Regions from separate parts of the Homo sapiens genome. Here regions 1 and 3 are each linked to region 2. Evidence: fine-mapped expression QTL. Tissue or cell type: monocytes after Pam3CSK4. Region 2 holds a variant in brackets; each other region holds the start of a gene. All regions are shown on one strand. Distances are from middle to middle.

Region 1 (8,102 bases), 65 kb before region 2:
ATTGTCCCAATTCATAGAATTTCACTGAACAATACATATAATCCGAACACTATACCAGAATTGAGTATTCTGAGCAAGAAAGTAGTGCGCACCCCAAGTCAATAAAATGAACACAATGGACTTAAGAAATATAAGGAGGAAACAATGGCTATGTTGGAGAGAACTTTCAAAGCTCACTCTATTCATCTTATATCCTACTGCTCAAATTCTCTGCCAAAAAGCAAATGAGGTCAGACATGCTCCCTATATTATATTGTATACATATATCAAATCTCAAAATACTCAGAGTTTCAATCGAAGGGACATTATACTCTAAAAATCTTTCCCTCCAAAAATAAAATCTTACAGTAATGCCTTCAGAGCATTCTTTTGCTGCCATGACACACTTCAAATTTGGATTTTACGAATCATTTGCTTCCAGGTTTTTTTTTTAATATTTATATTAACGGATTCCGATTACTTAAAATTTGGTGTTCTGCTCCGCCCTCATTATGTTTAGGCAAGATTCCCACTTCCACTCAAACTTATTATTCGAACATACAATGGCTGCATTAAGATACTTCCTAAATCGACAAAAGAAGAAAACTAATCAACCCAGAAAGCTCCCAAGCTACCAAAGCGAACCTTTTATTTGAAATCATACTAGGTACCACACTACACATTACGTGAAGCCCACAGAGTGATAATTGAAGTTATTTCTGCAACATGATGAAATTTATTTCTTAGCAAAATCTGACAAGACTTAATTTTCAACTGTCAAAAGGGAAATCGTTTTCCAAGATTCTAGGAAACCTTGCTTACTGAAGCAGTCTCAAAGTAGTTTGCTTAATCCTTTCAAACCCCTAAGAATCTAACACAAGCCACAGAACAGTGAATGAGACTTGCACTGAAATAAATGTCTGTGTTCAAACCCCTAAAGGTTACTTCCCATGTGTTTGGCAAGCTGAAGGCCATATGTCCGCCCAACCCATAAGTGTCTTTCCTCAATAAAGCTAACATTACACTTCCCAACTCAAATCAAAATACCAGAGAATCCAAAAGCCTCCAACTAAATTTTACCTGAACCATTTGGGAGAAAAAGTCAACAATCCAGATCAGTTATTCACGCCTTGAAAGAGTGTTAAGAGTCAGAAAGCTCCAATTCTGCCACTTTTAGGAGCTAGGTGTACATTACTTCTGTCTGCCTATAGCATGGGACTCAGATATTACATCACCCCATGCTGCCTGAATACTGACCCATTACCCAGAAAGCACCAGGGTATCTGAGACACTGCACCAAGGTATCCCTTTCTTCCTCTCTTATGCATAGCCCTTGAATGCTACTGGCCACTGGGCCTGGTCTCTTCCAGTTTCACAAAGACATCTGCCCTGCACCTGCTGCAATCCCATTTCCATTCACTCTTGGTGCGCTCCTCGTGACCCTGTGTGGCCCTTCTGTCCACTCGTCAAACCAATATGCTAGGATGATACCCACTACACACCTCTCCCAAATTTGGGGATGTGCACTCAGCTCTCCCTTACCCCTTCCCCCTTCCTCATTTACTGGGTTCTGGAATTAAAAGCAGGCTCAACGATCTCTCTGACCCTAGGAGTATGAACTTTCAGATATGACACTGAGTTTAATGTCCTCCACTTTCCATTAACATCATTCCAGGATCCAGGTCCCCCCACCCCTCAATCTCCAGTTTCTCTCAGTATGGAATTTAATCCTCTCCATTTAGTTATTTTTCCAACTTCTGCACTCTGCCTGATCTTCCTTAGACTCTCAGTGACCTAAAAATCTTGGCCCCTTTCATCTCTCAAACTCAAAGTGTTCCAATCTCTCCCCATACTTCCACTCCTTGGATCTTCCATACTCTCTTAAGCAACCTGTGTTCCTAGCTCTCTCCAACTTAAGCAGTCATTTCCTGCCCTAAACCTGGGCATCCTATTTCCCCCACCACCACCACCACCACTCCAATCCATCACCTATGCCTTTCTAGTTACAGACATGTCCACATACACCTCTGCCTTGCCCTTCCCTTACTCCACTATAGGTATTAAGCATTCTTCTACATCCTCTACCCCAAAATAGCCTGTCTACCTTCCTTCTTTCTCCCTACCTCCCTTCTCCCTACAGCACAAAATTCAGTGCCCCAAACCTGTGCTTCCCTCCCTCCACCTACTGTACTCCAGACCTGTCCACCTTCCCCTCCAGTCTATCCCGTTGTCCCCCTCTACTGATTTCGTTCTCACCCTCCCCTCCACCTTCCTCCTCCCCAACCGCTCCACACTTCCCGCCTCAGAAATCTTTCCTTCCATTTGTCCCCACACTTTACCTGCCACTCCAAGAACACTTCCCTTTCCCCACCCCCTTTTGCCCTCCACCTCACACACTCCACGCCACCCCACACCTGTCCCTCTCCCCCAGCTCCTGCCCCTAACGTCCTCCAACACTTGCCAAGAACCCCTCACCCTCCGTCCTACCTCAAAATTCCCTCTCTTGCTGATCCCACCTTCTTCCATACTTCCTGCATAAACACCCTCCATTTCACGCACTTCTCCCGCTATCCTTTAAATGCCCCACACACCTCCTGCTCTCCATCCCCATCACCCTTCTCCTACTGTCCCCACCTCTCTCTGCAAGCCCTCAAACTAAGTCTCTGCCCCAATGAACTTCCCCCTTCCACCCCATACTCCTCTTCCCTGAGCACCAGATACCTGCCTTTTTATCCTTACATGTCAACCCCCTCCCGCCTCCCTGCAGGCTCCCCTATACACCTGGCCACACACTCCCTCACACCCCTCGCAGGTCTCCTGGAGCCCCTGGGCCTACCCTTCATTTCCCTATCACCCCAGAAGCCTAGGCACCCTGCTCCCCTCCCTCCCTTTCAGGCGCTCCCTGCCTGCCCTCACTTCCCCCTGCCCCGACCCCCTCCTCCATCGTTCCCCTTCACGGGCGTCCCGGTGGCCTTCCTAATACCCGCCCCACTCCCTGCCCCTGGCACGCAGCGCTCCTTCCAGTCCTGCTCGAGTCCCCAGTCTTCTCCCTCCATTCCCACCCCACTCGTCCCTGCCCTCCCCAAAAGCCCCCTCATTCCCTCTTGAACCCCACAATATAGTGCCCCCCCCCACCGGACGGAATGTCCTCCATCTCGCACTCGCCTGGCCCAGGGGGCCCCCCAAACCTGCCTGAAGGCTCTCCTCCTCCATTGGGCCGGATCCCTCTGCACCCCTATTTACCCCCAAATCTGCCCACACCTTCCGCCTGCCCCCCGAAGCCTCTCCCCAGCTCCTGCCCCCAATGTCCTCCAACACCTGCCCCGAGCCCCGAGCCCTCCGTCCCGGAAGACCTCCCGGCACCGCGTCCCCCAACCCTGCCCACGCCCTCCCCTGATCGGCCGGGACCCCGTCCCCGCGAAGGTGAGGAAGGCTGCCCGCTGCCCTTGCCCGAAGCGGCCGGGGCACCGCAGCGGCGGCGGCGGCGGCCACAATGCCGGAGCCGCGGGGCCGGGATTGCTCCCTGCTCTCCGCCTCGGCCGCCACCGCCGCCGCCGCTGCTAAGGACGCACAACAAACAATGCGGGGCCCGGGCCGGCTCCGCCAACCGCCTCAACCGCCGCCTTAACCGCCGCCCGCCCGGGACGGCCCGCCGCGCAGGCGCCCGCCCCGCCGCCGGAGCCTACCCGCGCCGCCGCGCTCTGCCCGCGCCCGGTACCCGCTCCCGCTCCGCCGCCGCCGCCACCTCGCCCGCTCGCGTCTCCGGCTCCTCTGCCCAGCGGCGGCGGCTGCGGCGGCTGCTGCCCTGGTGGCGCTCGCGGCTCCGGTCTCCGCTTCGGCGGCGGCAGCGGCGGCAGCGAGCACGTGACACCGTCGAGCGCGCCCATTGGCCAGGCCAGGGGGCGGGCCCCGCGGCTGCTGGGGAACGGAAAGCCCGCCCCCTCGTTCGCCGCGCGCCCCCTCCACGCGCGTCCTGCCGCACCTGAGAGCGCCGGCCAGCGCCCGCCGCCGCCTTGCTGTGCCGCCGCCTGCGCCAAGTGCGCACCTGGGAGCGCGCAGGGAGCACTCGCCGCCGGCGGCCTTATGCACCTGCCAGCGGACGCTTACGTAAACTGCGTCCCCGCCTTCCTCCCGGCCCCAGGCCCCCGCTCGCTGCAGCACCTGAGCCCCGCTGCGCTAGCGGCGTAACTGCGGCGGAGCGGAGACGAGCTGCGCTGGGAGGCTAGCGAAATGCACGGAAACTTCGTAACTTCCGAACCTGGGAGCTGCGCCGAGCCGCGGCGGCTAGCCGCCTTCCCCGGGCCCCGCACCCCAGTGCGGGATGCCCCCCAACCCCAGCAGCCACACAAATGGAGTAGGCGTCGCACTGCCTCCCGAGGTAGAGGGGCAGGCCAGTAGGCTTTGACTTGTGCCACCGCCCACCTACTTGCTGGCTGTGTGACCTTGGCCAAGTTACCAAGAACCGTTCTGAGCCTCAGTTTCCTCATCAGGAAAACTGGGACAATAATTCCAATTTAGGAGCTGTTGGGGAGATGGCATAAGACAATAGGTGTGAATCCTGGCACACAGCAGTCGCTGAACAGAAGCTGCTACAATCACCTCTCCTTCACCTGCCTATAATGAACCTCGCTGGGATTGAGTTTGGGCCCAGGACCTCTCTGACCTCCTTATGGTTGGGTCAGACTTTGGCTGAACACCTACCAGCTCTGTGCCAGGGGCGGCGCTGGGGAAGAATTAAAGGTTCGCTTTCTATTCTACAGTCCCTGGCCTCAAGTTCTTGGTGCCCAGCATTCTGCTTGCCAGTATACAGTCCCTGCTGTATACCGGGGGGTTTGCAGGCTGCAGGGATGCACTGGCAAATGAGACAATGTCTTTGCCCTAAGACAATTCCCAGCCTGGAGCAGAAACGACCTGACCACTCAGTGCCAAGACAGAGGACCTTGAACAGCCCAGGGGTTGAGGAGGGACTCCCCACAACAGCCCCCTTGGGGCCCCTTTTCATCTTTCTAACACACCAGGCTCAAATATTTTAACAGCTCTGTTTCATTCACAGAATAAAGTGTAAAAAACCCAATTTCAACTGAAAAGGCCTTGGTGATCTGGCCTTAAGCTTCAAGGTGCACGCCCTTCCCTTTGCCCCTCCTTCAGGCCAATGTGACCCTCCAGCCACACAGAACTACAGTACTGTTGTTTCCAGAGTATGCCCAGGTGTGTAGGAGCCTGAGTCTCCTGAGACAGATGCCAGGCCGCAAATCCCTTTCTAAACCCTCTCCCCACCTCTGACCACTCACACCTTCCTTGACCCTCCTGAAAAAAATCCTGGGTATCCTTATCAATCAGCTCAGAGTATATTCTCTGGAGATCCTTGGCTGCCTCAGACACATGGTCTAAGCTCCCTCGGCTTGAACATAGTCCTGTTAAGCTATATGTATTCTCATGGCACTAGATTGTAATTGTTTAGCTGTCTGTCTCCTCCCTGGTCTCTCAGTCCCTTGAGGACAGGGTCATCTTCCTGCCTAAGTGTGTTAGGGAAGACTACACGTGCACATGACATGAGATCATTAAAGCTGGGTTTTGTAGGATGCCCATAAGTATCAGAGGGAGAAGAGGCGCCACACTGTAAAGATCCAGATTCACTGCACACTAGCTGTGTGATCTTGGAAAATCAATCTCTCTAGTCTAAGTTTACTCATCTGCCAAGTGAGACTAATAGTATTGCATATTGTAGGGTTGTTAGAAGGATTCATTGCAACCGTATATCTAAGGCACTCAGCACGGTGTCCAGCACTTGGTTACATTTTTAATTTTTTTAAAATAGAAGAACAGCATGGCATTAAGGATTCAATAGTATTTCTTGTTTCAATATCTTTATTGGGTTTGTAACTCCAAACACTGAGACAAAAGCATGCAAATTATATAAAAGGAAAGAAAGTAAAAAGTTAGGCCAGACGCAGTGGCTCACGCTGGTAATCCTAGCACTTTTGGGAGGCCGAGGCGTGTGGATCACCTGAGGTCAGGAGTTCAAGACCAGCCTGGCCAATGGGGCAAAACCCCATCTCTACTAAAAATACGAAAATTAGCCGGACGTGTTGGTGTGTACCTGTAATCCTAGCTACTCGGGAGGCTGAGGCAGGAGAATCGCTTGAACCCGGGGGGCAGAGGTTGCAATGAGCCGAGATCCCGTGATTGCACTCTAGCCTGGACAACAAGAGCGAAACTCCGTCTCAAAAAAAAAGTTAATGTCTCTCTCCCTTCCTGCCCTTGACTCCACTCCCACTACCCCAATCCCAACTCCAGAGTAGTTACTGTTAATTTTTCATGTCCCTCATTACATGTCCAAAGAAAAAAGAAAGTTGCAGAAAATTATTTATCTGTAATGTGTATGTTGGATTCTCCATAGAAAAACGTCAGAAAGGATTAAACACCAACCACTATTGGTTATGCCTGGAAGATAGAACTGGGTGTGGGGATGGAGGACTTAAAAATTTCTGCATTGTTTTAATTTTTTAAGGATACATATGCAGATTTTTGTTTTGCTTTGTTTTTGAGAGGGGTCTTGCTCTGTCGCCCAGGCTGTAGTGCAGTGGCGCAATCTTGGCTCACTGTAACCTCTGCCTCCTGGGTTCAAGTGATACTCTTGCCTCAGCTTCCTGAGTAGCTGAGATTACAGGCGCCTGCCACCATGCCTGGCTAATTTTTGTATTTTAGTAGAGATGAGGTTTCACCATGTTGGTCAGGCTAGTCTTGAACTCCTGACTTCAAATGATCTGCCCGCCTCGGCCTCCCAAAGTGTTGAGATTACAGGCGTGAACCACCGTGCCCAGCCTGTTTTGTTTTGAGACAGAGTCTCACTCTGTCACCCAGTCTGGAGTGCAGTGGCACAATCTCGCCTCACTGCAACCTCAGTCTCCCAGGTTCAAGCCATTCTCCTGCCTCAGCCTCCCAAGTAGCTGGGATTACAGGCGTGTGCCTCCACACCCGTCTAATTTTTTTTGTATTTTTAGTAGAGATGGGCCAGGCTGGTCTCGAACTCCTGGTCTCAAGTGATTCTCCCGCCTTGGCCTCCCAAAGTGCTGTGATTACAGGCGTGTAATCACACATAGATTTTTAACAATTTACTTGAGGTATAGTTTACACATAAAATTATGCATTTCAAAAATGTACAATCCAATGATTTTCAGTAACTTCACTAAGTGGTGCAACATTAACATAAGTCAGTTTCAGAACATTTAGCATACCTTGCCGGGCACGGTGGCTCAGCACTTTGGGAGGCCAAGGTGGGCAGATCACGAGGTCAGGAGATCGAGACCATCCTGACCACCATGGTGAAACCCCGTCTCTACTAAAAATACAAAAATTAGCTGGGCATGGTGGTGGACACCTGTAATCCCAGCTACTCAGGAGGCTGAGCCAGGAGAATGGCTTGAACCCAGGAGGCAGAGGTTACAGTGAGCCAAGATCATGGCACTGCACTCCAGCCTGGTGACAGAGGAAAACTCTGTCTAAAAAAAAAAGAACATTTAGCATACCTTATGGATCCCCCGTAAGACTCTCATGCTCATTAAGTGTTAATCCCATTTCCAACCCTGGCCACAAGCAAACACCAGTCTACTTTCTGTCTCTATTTTTTGTTTTTTCTGGTATATCTGATACTTCTTTTTTTTTAGACAGAGTTTTGTTCTGTCACCCAGGCTGGAGTGCAGTGGCGCAATCTCGGCTCACTGAAACCTCTGTCTCCCAGGTTCAAGCGATCCTCCCACCTCAGCCTCCTGAGCAGCTGGGACTACAGGCATGCCATTGTGCCAGGTTAACTTTTTGTATTTTTTTTAGTAGAGACTGGGTTTCATCATGTTGCCCAGGCTGGTCTCAAACTCTGGGCTCAAGGGATACTCCCTCCTCAGCCTCCTAAAGTGCTGCAACTACAGGTGTGAGCCTCTGCACAGGGCCTGATACATTTTTGTAAAAAAATCAAACAGACTGGTTGGGTGCCGGGGGCTCATGCCTGTAATACCAGCACTTTGGGAGGCCGAGGTGAGCGGATCGCCTGAGGTCAGGAGTTAGGGACCAGTCTGGCTAACATGGTGAAACCCCATCTCTACTAAAAATACAAAAATTAGCCGGGT
Region 2 (8,102 bases):
GGGCAGGTCTGCTGTCTCATTCCTCTGCTCATGCATCTTCCAGCCCAGGCACCAAGACCTGGACAGTTGTTCACCAGCCTTTCTCTTCCTCCTGGGCACAGAGCCAGGTGACACCTCCCGGCTTCCCTGTGGTTAGGCATGACATGTGACTGAGCCTTGACTAGTGGGACATGGACGGAAGTGACATGGGCCACTTCTGGCCTGGACCATAAAAACCTTCAATGTGTAATCCTCCAAATTCTTCCCTCATCCAGACGAAAGCAGATGATTCTGAGTTCTAGGAAAAGGTGTCACCACAATAAGGAGGGAGGCTGGGTCCCTGAATCACGTAGTGGAAGGCTCATTGACCAACCAGGAACTCTGTCCTGTGAGCAAGAAAAGTCTATTGTGTTACTGGGGTGGGGGTGTTTATTAGAGCAGCTAAGGTGATACTAATACGCTCAGAAAATAGTTGCTGAACCGAGTTGTTCTGTGATCCTGGATAAAGCACTGCCCTGTCTGGGCCTCAGTTTCCTCAACTATATGAGAAGGCTGGACCAGGTAATCCCTAGGCACCCTTGCTCCTGGGAAAAAGGAGGACTTTAGCTACACACACACACACACACACACACACACACACACACACACACACGCACTCACACTCACCCTGTCACGCACACTCCTGCAGTGGGGCTGTTTCCATAGGGACAGGTCCTGAAATGCCTTTCTGGATACAATTTCTCACGAGCACCCAAACAAGGACAACGTTCCAGAACCTTGTTTCTAACAAATGTCGGTAAAACAAAAACACCCGCTACAGACCCATAAAATGTGAAGACCAACTCCAGTGATAAAATATGTTCGTTTCTATGTATTTTTATAGCTTTCCGGATAATAAAAGGAACCGTGTTCTAATCGGATGCGTTTGTTAAATCAGTGTGCAGTGCCTCTACCCTCCTCTTCATGCACAGAGAGAGCTGCAGGGAGACAGGAAGTAGCAGCTTTTGTCATTACCTTGGGAACCTTTGGGACCAAAGGCCATCCTTATTGCTGTTTTCCCAACTCCTCCAGGAATGGTGGGAAGCAGCGTGCATCAGGGAAGGTAGGAACAGCAGAAGTTGTCAAAGATGCTTCTTCCCTAGCTTCTAGGACAGTTTCTCTTTTTATTCTCATGGGGAGAGAGGTACCAGGGTTGCTGCAGAGATGGGCTGGGGCTTGGTCAGGTAGGCTCTGGGATCACGACGGGGGTTCACACATACGTGCCAGGCACTGTTCTAAATGCTTTGGATATATAATACTAACGTTAAAAAAATAACTTCAGCTTTTATTTTAGATACAGTAGGTACATGTGCAGGTTTGTTACATGGGTATATTGACTAGTCTAAACTTCATGATAACCTTTGTGTAGGCCCTCATTTTACAGAGAGGGAAACTGAGGCATAAGGAGGTTGACAACTTGGCCAAGGTCACACAGCCAGTGAGTAGAGAAGTTGGTATTCCCACGCAGCCAGCTTTGTCTCCAGATCTGCCTCTCTAGGCTAAGGCTAAGGGTTTTTGTTTGTTTGTTTGTTTGTTTTTTTGAGACAGAGTCTCACTCTGTCACCAAGGCTGGAGTGCAGTGGTGCAATCTCTGTTGCAGAGACCACAATCTCTGTCTCCTGGGTTCAAGTGATTCTCATGTCTCAATCTCCTAAGTAGCTAGGATTACAGGCACATGCCACCACGCCCAGCTAATTTTTAAAATATTTTTAGTAGAGATGGGGTTTCTCTATGTTGGGCAGACTCCGGACGTCAGGTGATCTGCCCACCTCAGCCTCCCAAAGTGTTGGGATTACAGGTGTGAGCCACCATGCCTGGCCTAAGAGAAGGGTTTTAATCCATATCCTAAAAGCAGAGGAAGAGAGCAGCAAAGTGAACACAGACTGTATACTGTGGTCTGTGATTCTGCCCCACAGGTGACATTGGGCGACATCTTGAGACATGTTTGGTTGTCACAAGTGGGGATGAGGTGCTACTGGCATCTGGTACATAGAGGCCAGGGATGCTACAAAACACCCTGCACTGCACACAACAGTTCCCAACACAAAGAATGCTCCAGCCCCAAATGTCAATAACCCAAGACTGAGAAACCCTGCTCAGAGGTCAGACGGGCTGCAGCCTCTGCCACTCTCCAGCTGTGTGGCCCTGGGCAACTGACTTCCCCTCTCTGAACCTCAATGACTTTAGGAGAACTTTGGGTAAGGCAATCATGAGACAAAGCCTGACACATAGGAAGTACCCAATAAATAACAACAATGACTGTTTTCCTCTGATTCTCCCCTGACCGTCGCCATCTCTCACCCTGCCCCAGGCCCTGCCACATTTCTTGACCAAAAAACAGAACCAAGCTCTTAACAGTGAACTTGGGAGAGTTATGAGTTTATATTCCCCTGCTCCCTTCTAGCTCTGCCGACGTCTTCCGCTCCTCTAATTACTTATTTAAAGACTATCGATTCCTTGGGCTGCTGCTGGGAGGCCTCGCAGAATTGCATGTCTCGCAAATAGCAAGAGAGCCGTGGCCTAGCGACTGGGGCCGCAGCCTGACATAACCAGGCAGGGGGTTATTTTCGCCCGGGATACTTGTGAAATATTCATGTGCTGATTTAAATACTGAGGATGTCAGAGCTGGAAAGGGCCAGAGAGATCATATCGGCAGAGTTTGCCCTCACTGGAGACTAGGCAGCTAGATGGGGTGGGGAGGGTGCCTGGCAGAGATGGGCACTGGCAGAAGCAGGTTCAAGATGGATACCAAGGCCTCAGACTCAGTGCGTTGTGACCTTGGGCAGGTCGCTCGCCCTTTCTGGGCCATTGATCCCTCATCTGTAATGAAAGGGAGTTGTGAGGCTGAAATGGGATGGATATGTAAGAATAACTCAGTATAGAGTGGGCCTGCAAAATGTAATTGCATTTGAAGTCAGCAAGCCTGTCTGAGCCTGGATTTCCTCCTCTGGAAACTTCCTGGGGCTGATCAAGTTATATAAGATGACAGATGTGTGAACACTTTATACCAAGCAAAGTGATGGCTGACAAATGTTAAGTGTGTTTAATTAGCATGTGTGAGTGCCCACTATGTCCCAGGTGTTGTGCTAAGTGCTTAAAAAAACAGGCAATAGCTTTCTGAAACTCCCAACATGCATGGCGGAAGGTATCGTTATCTGAGTTCCAGTGGTGTGCTGGTAAACTGCTGGGGGAAGGTGAGGGGGGATCCCTGATGTGTAATGTTTGCCAATTTCCTTGGTGTAAATACTCCCACTATGGTTGATTTCAAGCTACCAATATGATATCACTGAACACAGAATTGGGAAGAATCTGCACCAATGGATCTCTGTCTTACAGAGGAGGAAACTGAGGTCCAAAGAAATAGGTTGAGTGCCTTGCCCCAGATAATTGGCTGAACCAGGTCAATCTCCCCCTAAATCTCACCACTTAACTACCTCCTAGGGTTGAGTCAAATGGGGTCGCCGAGCCTCAGAGATGGGAGTGACTTGGCCAAGGTCACACCTCATGATGGTCTAGAACTAGGACAGGGCCACACCTCCTTTCTCCCAGTCCAGTGTTCTTCCCATCAAGGGCTCAGGCCAATGTGGGGGCCACACTTGCCCTCCCCTCCTACCCCAAGCTTGCTCAGGAAGGCAACAGAACCTCACTTTACAAAGCGCCAACCCTAGGCTGGGCCCTGTGCCAGATAATTACATACGACATTCTCTCATTGATTATTCCCAGCCGACCTGTGAGGCAGGAATTCTGATTGCTAATTGATGGAGGAGGAAGCCCAGGCTCAGATTGGTGAAGTGACTTTCCCAAGGCTACAGAGCCAGGACGTTGTAAAATTCAAAACCACATCTACAGTCACTCCAAAGCCCACATGCTTTCCTCTCCAGCATTCAGCCGGGCCCTCATCCAGCCCACAGACTGCCTGACTCATGGAGGGCTTTAGATGGAAAGCCCGCAGGCATTCATAGACCCATTTGTTAAAAAACAAAACAAAACAAAACAAAAAGTACCTTTCTCTGCCTCAGTGATTTTTTTTCTTTTTCTTTATTCTTTCTTTTTTGAGATGGAATCTTGCTTTGTCATCCAGGCTGGAGTGCAATGGCACAATCTCGGCTCACTGCAACCTCCGCCTCCTGGCTTCAAGCAATTCTCCTGCCTCAGCCTCCTGTGTAGCTGGGATTACAGGCACGTACCACCACACCCAGCTAATTTTTGTGTTTTTAGTAGAGGCAGGGTTTCACCATGTTGGCCAGGCTGGTCTCAAACTCCTGACCTCAGGTGATCCACCTGCCTCAGCCTCCCAAAGTGCTGGGATTATAGGCATGAGCCACCACGCCTGGCCGTCAGTGATATAATTTTGAATCAGCTATGATTTTTAAACAAATCAATTATCAGGCCCCACACCAGACCATTTGAATCAGGATCTCGGGGGAACCTGACCTCCAAGTGGCTCTGGTGTTCCAAAGCTTCCCAGGGGCTTCTGATGTGCAGCTGGTTTGGGGAACCACTGTCCTGTGTCTTAGTCACTCTTGGTGACAATTGCTGATGGGAAAGCATCAGA[C/T]CTGAGGGTGAAGAAGGATCCCCAAGTGTTAATAGGCACATGAACCTTGAAAAGGCCAAGACTGTATTGGGCAGGTGGTTATTTCTGAGGTCTGAAATGGACACACATCAGTATCAGCCTCTTCCTGACTGCAGCGGGGACCAAATCTGTCCCCTTGCCACAAAACTGACCTGAGAGCTGAGGGCACTGGACAACCACATGATTCTCCCCCAGCTCAAGAGCGTCTTTCCCTGTCGTATATTAATTTACTCACCGCGTGTTTTAGATCTGCCTCTTGGGGGCCAGATATTGCACTGGGTGTTGGGGAAGCAACAGCGAACAAGGCACGTAGCCACATCCCTCAAGGGGTATACAGACCCATGGTTGTAACTGGACGAAGATGACTATGTTCACCACAATTCCTGGGAAGAGAGGCTGCAGTGTAGACCCCTCTCCCGTTAATGAAATCTATAGCAGAGGATGTATTGTTCATGCCTGGCTTGTGACAGGCTCAAGAAGGAGTTGAGTTTCACATTGAGGTTGACATATTGCAGATAGAGATATGAGTAGAGGAGAGTGAGCTGTGGAAAAGGGATCTCAGGGGGGTTTGCAGAAATAGCAGGGGTGGCAGGTTCTGGCTGGGTCCAGAAGCTTTTAATCTATTACTTGAAAGCATGAGGAAACACCTGAAGGAGACGTGTGTGATATGATGGAATACAATGAGACTGTCAAACTAGCCTGGGGAGGTGGGGGAATCATCGTGACCATTCATTGAGCTGTGATTGTGTGCCAGGTTTTGTGCCACACATGCCATATGCATCATGTCTCAAGTCCTTGTAAACACTTTACAAGATAGACTATTATGCTCATCCTATGGGTCAAGGAAATAGAGGCTCAGAAAGGTAATATGACCTGCCTAAAGACACACAGCTGGTTTGTTGCACAGCCAGAAGTTTTGTTTGTTTGTTTTGTTTTTTGTTTTGAGACAGGGTCTCACTCTGTCACTCAGGCTGGAGTGCAGTGGTGTGATCTTGGCTCATGGCAAACTTCGTCTCCTGGGCTCAAGCGATCCTCCCTGCTACTCTGGGATTGTAGGCATTAATCCTTAACCTCCAGAGTAGCTGGGACTGTAGGAGTGTGCCACCATGCCCAACTAATTTTTAAATTTTTTATAGAGACTAGGTTTTGCCATGTTGTCCAGGCTAGTCTGGAACTCCTGGGCTTAAGTGATCTGATCTGACTGCCTCAGCCTCCCCAAATGCTGAGATTACAGGCGTGAACCACCGGGCCTGGCCAGAGCCAGGATTTGAACCCAAGTTTTTATGATTTGAAAACTCATGCTCAAAGCCCCTACACTGTAGAAGCTGCCTTGGTATCTATTTCTCCCTTATCAGAAGGCCCTCATGCCTACAGTTAGAGGAAGGGACAGAACTTGCATGCACACCAGGCCACCTAACGATGACACACAAGATGAGCATTGTCAACCCCATGTTATGGCTGAGGGACTCAGCCTCAGAGAAGTAAATGAACTTGCCCGAGGTCATAGATGAGAAATAGCAGAACTGGGATTGGAGCCCAGGGTCTTTGCCTGGCCCCACCTGCCCTCTGCCCTCACAGCCCTATTACTCCTTCCATGATGGGGGTGGCAGACATCCCAGGCTGGGTCTCCAGAGCAGGCCCAAGTCTGGGCCTCAGGGCAAGGTCATCAGGAGGCCAAAGAGGGAAATCTTTAAATGGTGTCAGGTTCATTGCCTTTGTGGCAGAAGGAAGAAAAAAGAAGAGGCACAGAAGCAAGGAAGATGGAGCTGATTCCTGCTTAACTCACACCCTCTCGTTTGGCTGAGTCAGCGATGCAGGGAGGCCTCCCTGGCCTCAGCACAGAATCGCAGGAATCTGCAGATCTGCTGGAATTTCTCTGCACTGGCTGGCACGGGAGGTGACGAGAGCAGAGGAAAACGACTGCTGTTTTTATTCTCTGGGGCTGGTTTCTTTCTCTCCCCACTCCCCCCCGGCTTCTTGCTCATGTCTTTGAAAGGCCACTTGTCTCTGACTTGCACAGCACTCAACAGTCTAGAAAGCCCCTACAAAGAGCTCTTCGGTCCCCAAAGTGATTTATGATTTTGAAGTGCTTTTTGGATTATGAAAGGCTAACCTACAATAGCCTCCTCACTGCGGCAACATTTACAAAGTGCTTTGCAAGTCACACGGCATTTTATAGTTTGCAACATTCTTTGCAGCCAAAAGGTGCTTACCTCTCCAGAGGGGACTTCAGAGTTTGCAAACCCTGGTCACACCTCTTCCTTTATTTAAACTGCAGTACAGCTCTGTGATAAAGGCTGATAATAATATCTATCACTCATATGGCGTTCACAGTGTCCTAGATATTCTTATGAGCGCTTTACATACGTTCACACATTAATGGTTCAACAACCCCGCAAGGTTGCCACTATTATGATACCCATTTACAAATAAGGATGTTGAGGCACAGCCAGGTAAACCTTGCCCAAGATCACAGGGCTGTTAAGTAGTGGAGCTTGGATTTGAGGCATTGATGTTTGATAGGATGACGACACATTTTGTATCCATTTTTCATATGAGAAAAACAGAGGTCTAGGGCAGTAGCCAGTTCTGTCATGCCCCCCATGTGACCTCAGACTGGTCTTGGCATGTCTCTCGGTCTCTTTTATCCTTCTCTGCAGAACTGAAAGGATAAGCCCCGCCCTGCTCTCTTCTCAACTCTGAACAAATGTGAGGTGTGGGGGTGATGATGCTGGAGGGAGGAGGCCAAGCCTCAGCACCCCCACCCTGGCCTTGCTGCCTGTGCCAAGGTACCAAGCCTTGCCTCAGCTTTCCCCTCTTGGGTGTGGCTCCACTCTGTACAGAAGGCCACCTGGAGGCCTTTCCTGAGATCTCCTATCTTACAGGTGGAGGGAGAGTAGGGTGATGGGGTGGCATGGAGGAGGGAACTTCACCGAGGGCCCAACTCCCATCTTCTGGGTAAAGTCCTCTAGTGAGAGCCCAGAAAAATCACAAGAGTCCAGCCCCCCAGCCATTGACCAGCTGGAGAAACTGAGGCCCCAAAAGTGGAGGTACTTACAGTCACTCAGAGAAGTGGGTGCAGAGGTGGGGCTGGAATTCATCTCCATGCCCTTCCCATGGCCTGTGCTGGGAGTGTGGCTTCAGATCTGAGAAGGCCTTAGATCATTTGTTCATTCCTTCATTCATTTGTTCATTCATTCTTTCATTCAGCTAGTCAGTCAACAAACATTTCTTGAGTGTCCACTCTGTGTCAGATGCTAGATTTAATAATTGTGGGTATGGCTTGGTCCCTGCCCTCATGGAGTTTATAGTCTAGCACTGTGCTGCCCAGTGCAGTAGCCTCTGGCCACATGTGGCTGTTGAGCAGTTGAAATGCAGCTGTTCCAAACTGAGATGTGTTACAAGTGTGAAATACACACTGGATTTTGAAGACTTAGTATGGAAGAAAGTAAGATATCTCAATGATTATTTATTTATTATTATTTTTTTTTTTAGACAGAGTCTTGCTCTG
Region 3 (8,102 bases), 220 kb before region 2:
CTCCCCAGTAACATTTCTAAAAATGAGCCCTCCTCCCTCGGAAAGGTAGTAAGTAGTAGCAAAGCATCTCCCACAGCCATGGTAGGTCCCATCCCTGAGAAGCTGCCACATGAAGTGAGCTAAGGGAAAAGCAGTGCTCAGTACCCCATCTAAGAAATGGGGGTGCGCAGTGAACAGAACCTGCTTGTGCAAGGCCGGCCTGACCATGAAAAGTGATCGGGGGTAAGTAGAGGGATGCGTCTAATGGCAGCGGCCTCTGGCCCGCTGTCGGAATAGAAGAGGTATTTTTTGCAACCAGGGCTTGCCTGGCTACTTCCAAATCAAACCTCATGCACCAGCTGCCATCACTACCTTGGGGGTCAGGGCTGCAGCCTGAGGGAGCCAGTGAAGTGATATCCACACACAAGGAGGCTTGGTAAGTGACATGGAAGTGCCTCGGAAATGCGTGTGTCTGGATCGAGTGTCTTGCCACGGACCCACCACACCAAAATCCCTAAAGGGTGGAGAGCACGAGATACCCAGAACAGAGGAAAGAGGCTGGAAACCTAAGACACGACTTGTAAATTACAGGTGGAGACGGAACTTCTCACCACCTCCCTAGCTATCTAAAACTCCTACTCCTTGATCCATTTCCATGAACAAGGAAAAGAAAAAGAGTCTGACTCGCAAAAGCGGCAGAAATATTTAGGTTAGAGTCAAGCAACTTTCTGACCATCTTGGTTCCCTAAGCAGGAAAACGGGACAGATGGCAAAGCACCTGTGCCTGTAGGCAGGGGCAGGGCTGGCCTGAGCAAGGCTCTTGTCTGTAAGTAACTCCACTGCCTGACAGACAAGAGCCTTCCTATGAAGCTGGAGCCACAGCACGTGACTTGCTGTCACAGGAAAGGCCACACCTGGCACTGCAGCCAGGGACAGGCTGCATTCTCTTTACCCAGTGTCCATCTGTGCCGGCTCCAGTTTGTCAGTTTCCCTTCCATAAACCCAGAAACTTCACTAGACAATGCAAGAAGTGTTCCTTCTTAGAGCTGTACCATAAGAGCCTGAGAGCTACTCCATGTCCATAAGAGAGAAGACCAGGCAGCAAAATCCGAGAGGCACTTCTGTACCAGAGGGAGCCCGACAAGTCTAAAGACAGCAGCCACCCAGGGGCAACTCTTCCTTCTGTATCCCTGACCTGATTATCAGAGATTAGCAAAACACAACTTCACCGAGAGGAAGCAGCACCCAGTTTCTGAAGTTTGCAGTGGCTTCCTGCCTCTCCAGGGCCTGCCAGGCTGCTCAGAGCACAGCACACCTCCCTCCCGCCTTTCCCCACACCTGGCCCGACTGTGCTGGGGCAGCAACGTAGCCCTCGCCTCCTGACTCAGTCCCGGAAGGCCAGAGACAAGGCTGGGCCCCGTGAAAGGGAGTCACAGTGCAGCGCTGCCGGCCTGTGGCTGGTCCCGCCTCGTCAGCATCCTGGGACAGCCCTGTGTGCAGCTGGCCACCACCTCCCAGCTCAGGCAGAGGGGCAAGTGCCTCCTCTTCTCCGAGCTGCATGTGATCCTCGCCTGCCCCGCGGGGCTGCTGGGGCTTCGCTGAATCAGCGCCTGTGGAGGCGCTTCTATCAGGCCATCTTTCTCCAGCCCTAGCCGCCCCTTCGCAGCGGACACTGTGCTCCTATCAACGCACGGCAGCGCCAGCTATTCCCACCTTCTGTTCACGTCAGACTGGCAGCAGCTCACGTCCCTGGCACCTCTCCGATGCTCTGAACGGCAGCTCCCTTCAACGTGCCTAGAAACCCCTCTGAGAGGAAAGACCATGCTCAGCAGAAAGCGCTACAAACACCCCAACTACACTGAGCATTCCTCAATGCAGCCACCACGTCTGATTCACCTCAGTCCCCTACGCCTGACGTCGGGCCCGGCCCAGAGCAGTCCACCCCCAGGGGTAGTTGCTTCCACCTCCCTTAGTAGCTGGCAGCCTCTGGAGACGAGAGGCCAGCACCTCTGCTTCTCTGAGGCCTGCTGAACACGGGCCTAGGGCATGTACAAAGGAAGCAATCTGCTCCATAGAGCGTTCCCGCCATGTGACTTGATTCTGAAGCAAGGGGCAGTCAGTCCGTCCCCGCCCCTTTACCTTCATATTCTGAGGCCCCAAGCCGAACTTAGATTGGAGACAGAATGTTTCATTTATCCTGCCCTCGTACGTGAATCTTTAGGATAGCAGGAAAGAAAACGCCTGAAGAAGGAAGATTCTGTAAAGCTCTGTCATGTCAAAATAAAGGTGGGGTGCTCACTGACTATAAGCCAATGGTCAGAAAACCTGTCCAACTCTCTGGGCCTCTCTTCCCCACTCTAATACCAAAAGTACCTTGACCAGGAAGTCCAGACTAAACGGAAAGGCGTAACTTACAACCACAGACATGGTCCTCCATAGCCAGTGACATTTCTAATAAGCATTTGTGATCACATGACCCTCCTGAGCACAGCTGTCCAGTGGCTCCCTACAGCCCAGAGAATCCAGTCCACACCCCTGAGCCTGGCCCTCCTGGTCCTTTACGAGCAGACCTCATGCGCCTGTGTGACTATGCAGGCCTCCTCATTGTTTGACACAATCTCATCCGTTATCTGGTCCTGCTTCCCTTCCTGGAGAACTGCAGCCTCCTCGTCTAAACCCGACTCCGGAGCTGCCTGCCTTCAGGGCTTTCCTGATTCACCCTCAGCCCTTCTCTTTGAGATTCTATCACCTGGGACTTCCCTGAGCCCTGTTCTGTATGATGCTCTTTAGCCACCTGCTCTCCTCTTCCAATGTCCCACGTGTCACTCAAAACCTAAGTTCCATATGGGCAGGAACTACATCGTCCTGTGCATTGAGCCAGTGCTCACACGGAGGAGATGCTCAGGAAGCCTTTGTGGGGAGGTGGATGGATCCAGGCAGTGGATGGGAAGGAAGTTTCCAGTCATGATTAAGCCAAAGGGTAAGTCATCTCTATAGTCTAAGGGGTTGGTGAAATACAGCCAAGTTTGGCAAAATACTCCCTACTTTGCAGGGGTTGGCAAACTACAGCCCTGTGTATTTGTAAGTGAAGCTTCATCAGAACACAGCCATGCTATCTATTTACGCACTGTCTCTGGCTGCTTTTGTGCTACAGTGGCAGAGCTGAGCAGTTGTGGCAGAGACCACATGGTCCATAAAGCCTGAAATGCTATCTGGCCCTTTACAGAAAGGATTTGTGGACACAGGGCTAAGGCAGCGCTTCCCATATATTTTCACATTTCACCTCTTTAGAGGTGAGATTTGTGTAGCCTGTTGATTAACAGTGAAGGCTGCTTGCAGCTAAGAGACACCTGGCCTTGGAGCTCTGGCCACCCAAAGGCTGACAGGATCCGTGTCCACAGCTGCCACCTGAGCCACAGTCCCCAGCAGAGCTGTAGGAAACAGGTGCAGAAACCCATGCTGGCCTTCAGCTCTCCCCGTCCATTTCAAAGCAAAAGTGGCAGCACTGGGACAGACACAAAACTGACACCCAAAACCAATCCTCCGGTCACCTCACAAGTTCATGGTCCTTTCCGTCCTTCAAGAACTTGGGAAAGAATGTCCACGTCTTCCCATGGGCTACAGACTGTGTTCCACAGATGCTGAATCCAACAAGCTCCAACCCTTGCTTAGGTTAAAAATGAACACAAATGGATTAACTTTTTGCCAAGCAAAAGGCCTCAGCATGAACAACCACCCGGTACCTGTGACTCCTGGCTGGAGAGCCCAGCCCGGCGGAAACTCAGAAAGGGTGAAGATGCTGATAGGTCACAAGCCCCTCCCCACTGCCAATGGAGATGCCAGAGTGCTCCAGCACAATGGAGTGTGGCCCACCAAAGCCCCATTTCCTAGCCCGGTGGAGATGGCCCTCGCTCCATTCTACCTCCTCTGTACCCTGTCAGTATCTTCCTCCATTCCCCTGCCTTCCCCCGTCCTGGTCAGAAACACCATTGTTCCCTCTATTGCCCACTGAGCAGTGGTCCAGGAGAAGTACTCCAGCAGGTCCCCCGCCCCCGGATGGGTGCTATTGTTCCTTGGCCCAGGGTTGGGGGCCATCATCTTCCCGTCCCTACCCAATCCGGCAGAGGAGCCTGGCCTGTGAGGAGATGCCATTCCTGCCTCTCCATCCCTCTGCTGCTGCGCTCCATCAGCCTCCCTCACGCCTCGCCTGGCCAATGGCAACAGCCTCTTGCTCATCAGCCTTGCCTCCTGACTCTGGTCCTTGGCTATCCAACTGTCCCAATCGACCCTCTGGAACTCACTATTGTGGACAATGGTCATCATTGAAGGACACACCACCCAGGGCCTTTTAAGAAGTGACTGCAGACTGTGTGTCCCACCTGCCACTTGACTCTGCTCATCCTCTCGGGTCCCACAGCAAGGCCCTTCACACTCCCCAAGTGGGCACACTCTCTCTGTGCATGCATGCCAGGCCCGCCTCTGACTCCCCTCCTGGGGATCCCGTCTGGCTCAGTGGGAAGCCTATCGCTCTTGGTAAATTACTCAGTAAGCACTTCTCTCCTGAGGCCTGGCTCCTCTCCTGCCCTCGGCGGGAGACCTGGGAACGGGCCTGCCAGCGCCCAGCCCAGGGCTGGCAAGGAGGATCCCTAGCAGGGAGGGGGAGACCCACTGAAGCCTTTCTCCCTGCACAGAGGAGGACTCTCATTCTGTTCAAATCCTCTGCACCTCTTTCTTCCCCTCCCTGTACTCTCCATCTGGGTCAATGATTTCACCTTCTACTCAGTTGTCTAAGCTGCAGATTCTGACATTTTCTCCAACTGCTCCTTCTCCCCCATCACAGAGCCTGGTAAGAAGCAGTAGGTGACAGTGAATGGTTTTTCTCAATAAATCTACGTGCCCAAGAAGGGAGACATGGTCTTGGCAGCATCACCAGTCAACATCAGAGTTCGTCCAAACTGACATTCCACAGCATTTCCTCTTTGCCGTCCACACAACCGGCTTCTTGCTTGAACATGCTGGTTACAGGGAGCTCATGTCGCACCTCAGCTGCTCTCTCAAGGCTGCGTCTGTCATCGCGGGAGGTGTATTTTAGCTCAAATTGCCCCACTGGCTTCCCATAATTGTCTTTCACCCTTTGGAACCACATACAACAAATAAATATAATCCCTTAAAAATACCTGGCAGGAGTGCCCACGTTCTCTCCAGGTCTCCTCTTCACCAGCCTTAACCTTCTGGTCCTTCCATCTCATTTCAAGGTGCTTTCAGCTTTCCTGAGTTCCCCAGGTGCCAATTTCCATAGGTTTTTTACCTCCCAGATGATGGCTACCATATTCCTTTAACGTAGCCTCTGCAGGAATGAGGGATTTTTAGAAAGCTGAGACTTCCGAGAAGTCTCATGATGGAAGAATCCAAGGGGATCCCAACACCAGATTGCTCTGGAAAATGTGTTACTGTGACGGTGATCCCATGGGTTAGAGCACATGTTTGAAGGCCGAGCCAGGAACGGAGGATGTGGCCAAAAACCAAAGTGTGGATGAGGCGGAACATAAAACACATACTTCCAACAGCACATCCCCTGTCCTCCTTCCCACCCCTGAGGAGCTCTCCAAGTAGCAATTACTGAATTTGCACTTTATTATAGGGTTCAGTTACAGTATAAAATGATGGTCTGTAGAAATTAACCCCAACTGTGTAGCTGGCAAAAAAGAAAACAAAACAAAAAAACAGGCTGCCTGGCCCAGGGCTGACCAGTTGGTCACCTTGCCCAGTAGCACACTAACAAAGGAACAGAAAAAGAACGAGCCCAGAAAGTCTGGATTTTAGGAGGCTAAGGAAGGATCAGGGAGATGTGGGTTGGTTTTTGCTTGGTTTCAAGGCGCACAGGGGATAGCCCAGAAGCCTACAGGAAAGGTGAGCCGAACACATCACAGAGAGAGAAGCCACTGCTGCCAAGTGGGCTTGGAAGACAGAACGGACATTGGTGCCTACTAGCGACGCAAACCACCTGCACACAGCATAGCCTCAGACGGGGTGAGCGCCGCCACTCACCGCACTATAATTTGGGGCAAGTCACCTTATCTAAGCATCTATTTCCTCATCTGTAAAAGGAGAAAATTTCTAATTCCAGTTGTGGTGAAATTCAAAACTAATTCCTCAGAAAGGGCTGCTGTTACCTCTAAAAACAGTCTTAAGAAATGTTATTTCTTCTGGTGGTTAAAAACTCATTAGGGGCCACAATGCTTTGCCACAAATAAGCAGTGTGGTTTGGAGAGATCTCTGGGCTCTACTCTCCCTGTCTGCAAGGTGGGAACAACGATCTATGCACTGCTGCTTCTCCAAGGGCCACCAGTACAGCAAGTCATGAAATGGCAAACGGGAAAGGGCCTGAGAGAGGACTGTGTTCTATGAATGCCAGGCGCTCATTCTCCCTGACACAGTCATGCTCTAGAACACGACAGCCTGGGATTCAAAGGTTCCTTTTTCCTGCTCCCCTCCAGGATTACAGCAGGGTGCACAGAAACATTGCCAAGTGCCCAGAAAGAGGATGACTTGGGGTGGATGAGGAATACTTTGTCCTGAAAAGGATCCCGCAGCCATCCCCGCACCCACCCACGCCTGAGCAGAGACCCAGCTGTCATTCATTAGCCCAGGAGCTGGTAAAGTGGTTACAGCAGCAGAAGAATCCAACACGCTCAACAGGGTGGTTCACAGGCAGCAATTTAGAGACCCCAAAGCCATCCAAGCAGGGCTTACCATACACGGGTCCAACTTGGAGGGAAGACAGCAAACTCCAGGCTGGCAGTCTGCCCTGAGGCCTACTCCAAGGGAAACTCCTGGCAATGACCACTGACCTCTGCAATCTGCCACCACCCATCTCTACTGAGTACTCGTCCAGGGACACCCCCTTGCACTTACACCTCAGACCTGGGCTGCTGCCCCTCTGTGCTCCTCTTCCTTGTACCCAATGAGCCAAAGCCTCACCAGCCTGCCTTCAGAGTCTGGCTTAAATTGTTGAAGACATCCTCATGACCTATCTCAGGCCAGGCAGAGAACATGCACTCGGAAAATATAAGCTAAGTGAAAACACATACCTCAGATTTCACTGAAATTCAAAGAAAAACAAGCTTTAGATAAAAATGCTTCCTCTGTGGATACAGATGCAATGCAGCCCTTCAGTCTGTCCTTCCAGTATGTTAAATCGTTCTTCACAACCAATTTAAATGAAAAGAGCCCTATTTTAGGCCAGGTTATCTGATCTGGAGTCACCTCAAGTCAGAGGGCCTAGCTACCAGCAGAGCCCATCCTGTCGGCCGCAGCCTTTTAATCCATAGCAGGATGGAATAGAAAAAGGCTTTAGAACAGAACTAGGTTCCATTAATGGTTCTAGCACTTAACCTGGAGCATCAGTTTCTTTTGTAAACTAAGGATACTACTATTGCCAGAAAGGTAGCTGGAGAATTCAGAAGAATGTCCAAGTGCCTGGCACACAAGATACAAATGTTGGCATCTCTCCTTCCCCTTCCCTTCCTACTCCTTCAGTCCACTGCTGCTCCAAATGACCTAAACTGAGGGCTGCTGTTCACCTCATTACTTGGGGCATTTAGCAGACACCTGCATGCAGACACCTTTTGTCCAGTGCTGAAACTGCCTGGGCAAACAGTGGCTATCTTCACTCTGCCCACCAGCAGGGTGGCACAGTTCATCTGCAGAAATGGCAAAGTTCTGCCAAGAGAGACCAAGACCCTCCTCAGAAGGAGTAAGTAATTAGAATGTTGACAACTGATCAGTCAAGGCAAAAAAGTCCTCCCTCAATGCTGGCTGAACAAGGCAAAGACTCCACCAAACAGCCTCCCCTGGGGGGAATGTACTAACTTTTGCAGGACATTAGCTAAACAAGTATTTCTTAGATTTAAGAAAAACCTCCTGACTACAAGCCAAATCTTATTTGCCTCCTTAAAGGTAACACTCAGTCCTTGTCTACGTAACGCAGTTTTTATAAACTTGGAGCATCTGAGGGCTCCAATCTATGTTCCCCACTTAGCTCACCTCTTACCAACAGCCAAGGATGCATCTGACCACCTTTCTGCAGAGGCTCCTGAAGTCTTTGTAGACACACAAAGGAA

Alleles and levels. Positions count from the first base shown, and alleles are read on the strand shown. Sizes are in standard deviations (SD) of each study's normalised expression.
With allele T in place of C in region 2, the expression in monocytes after Pam3CSK4 of the gene that starts at base 3,816 in region 1 is higher (large effect, 0.76 SD a copy in Quach 2016).
As copies of T replace C in region 2, the expression in monocytes after Pam3CSK4 of the gene that starts at base 4,705 in region 3 goes up (moderate effect, 0.64 SD a copy in Quach 2016).

The links. PIP is the estimated chance that this variant, and not a neighbour inherited with it, causes the effect.
Region 1: it holds the start of STRBP, and the variant in region 2 is fine-mapped to the expression of STRBP in monocytes after Pam3CSK4 (Quach 2016, PIP 0.95). The same link has a PIP of 0.9 or more in monocytes after LPS and monocytes after R848.
Region 3: it holds the start of MIR600HG, and the variant in region 2 is fine-mapped to the expression of MIR600HG in monocytes after Pam3CSK4 (Quach 2016, PIP 0.95).

The regions. Positions count from the first base shown.
Region 1 is chr9:123,264,771-123,272,872 of GRCh38, forward strand. STRBP (spermatid perinuclear RNA binding protein) reads right to left here and starts at 3,816. Exons shown (of 19, transcript NM_018387.5): 1 at 3,666-3,816. RefSeq lists silencers at 3,542-3,591, 3,762-4,241 and an enhancer at 3,642-4,142.
Region 2 is chr9:123,329,354-123,337,455 of GRCh38, forward strand. LOC124902266 (a long non-coding RNA gene) reads right to left here. Exons shown (of 2, transcript XR_007061760.1): 2 at 8,048-8,102. Among named protein-coding and RNA genes, the nearest start is that of CRB2, 23 kb to the right of the region's middle. The variant C/T (reference allele first, on the strand shown) is at 4,574.
Region 3 is chr9:123,110,773-123,118,874 of GRCh38, forward strand. It overlaps MIR600HG (MIR600 host gene), which reads right to left and starts at 4,705. Exons shown (of 1, transcript NR_026677.1): 1 at 1-4,705. It overlaps MIR600 (microRNA 600), which reads right to left and starts at 871; the gene lies at 774-871. It also overlaps a transcript of STRBP not described here. RefSeq lists an enhancer at 1,187-1,336.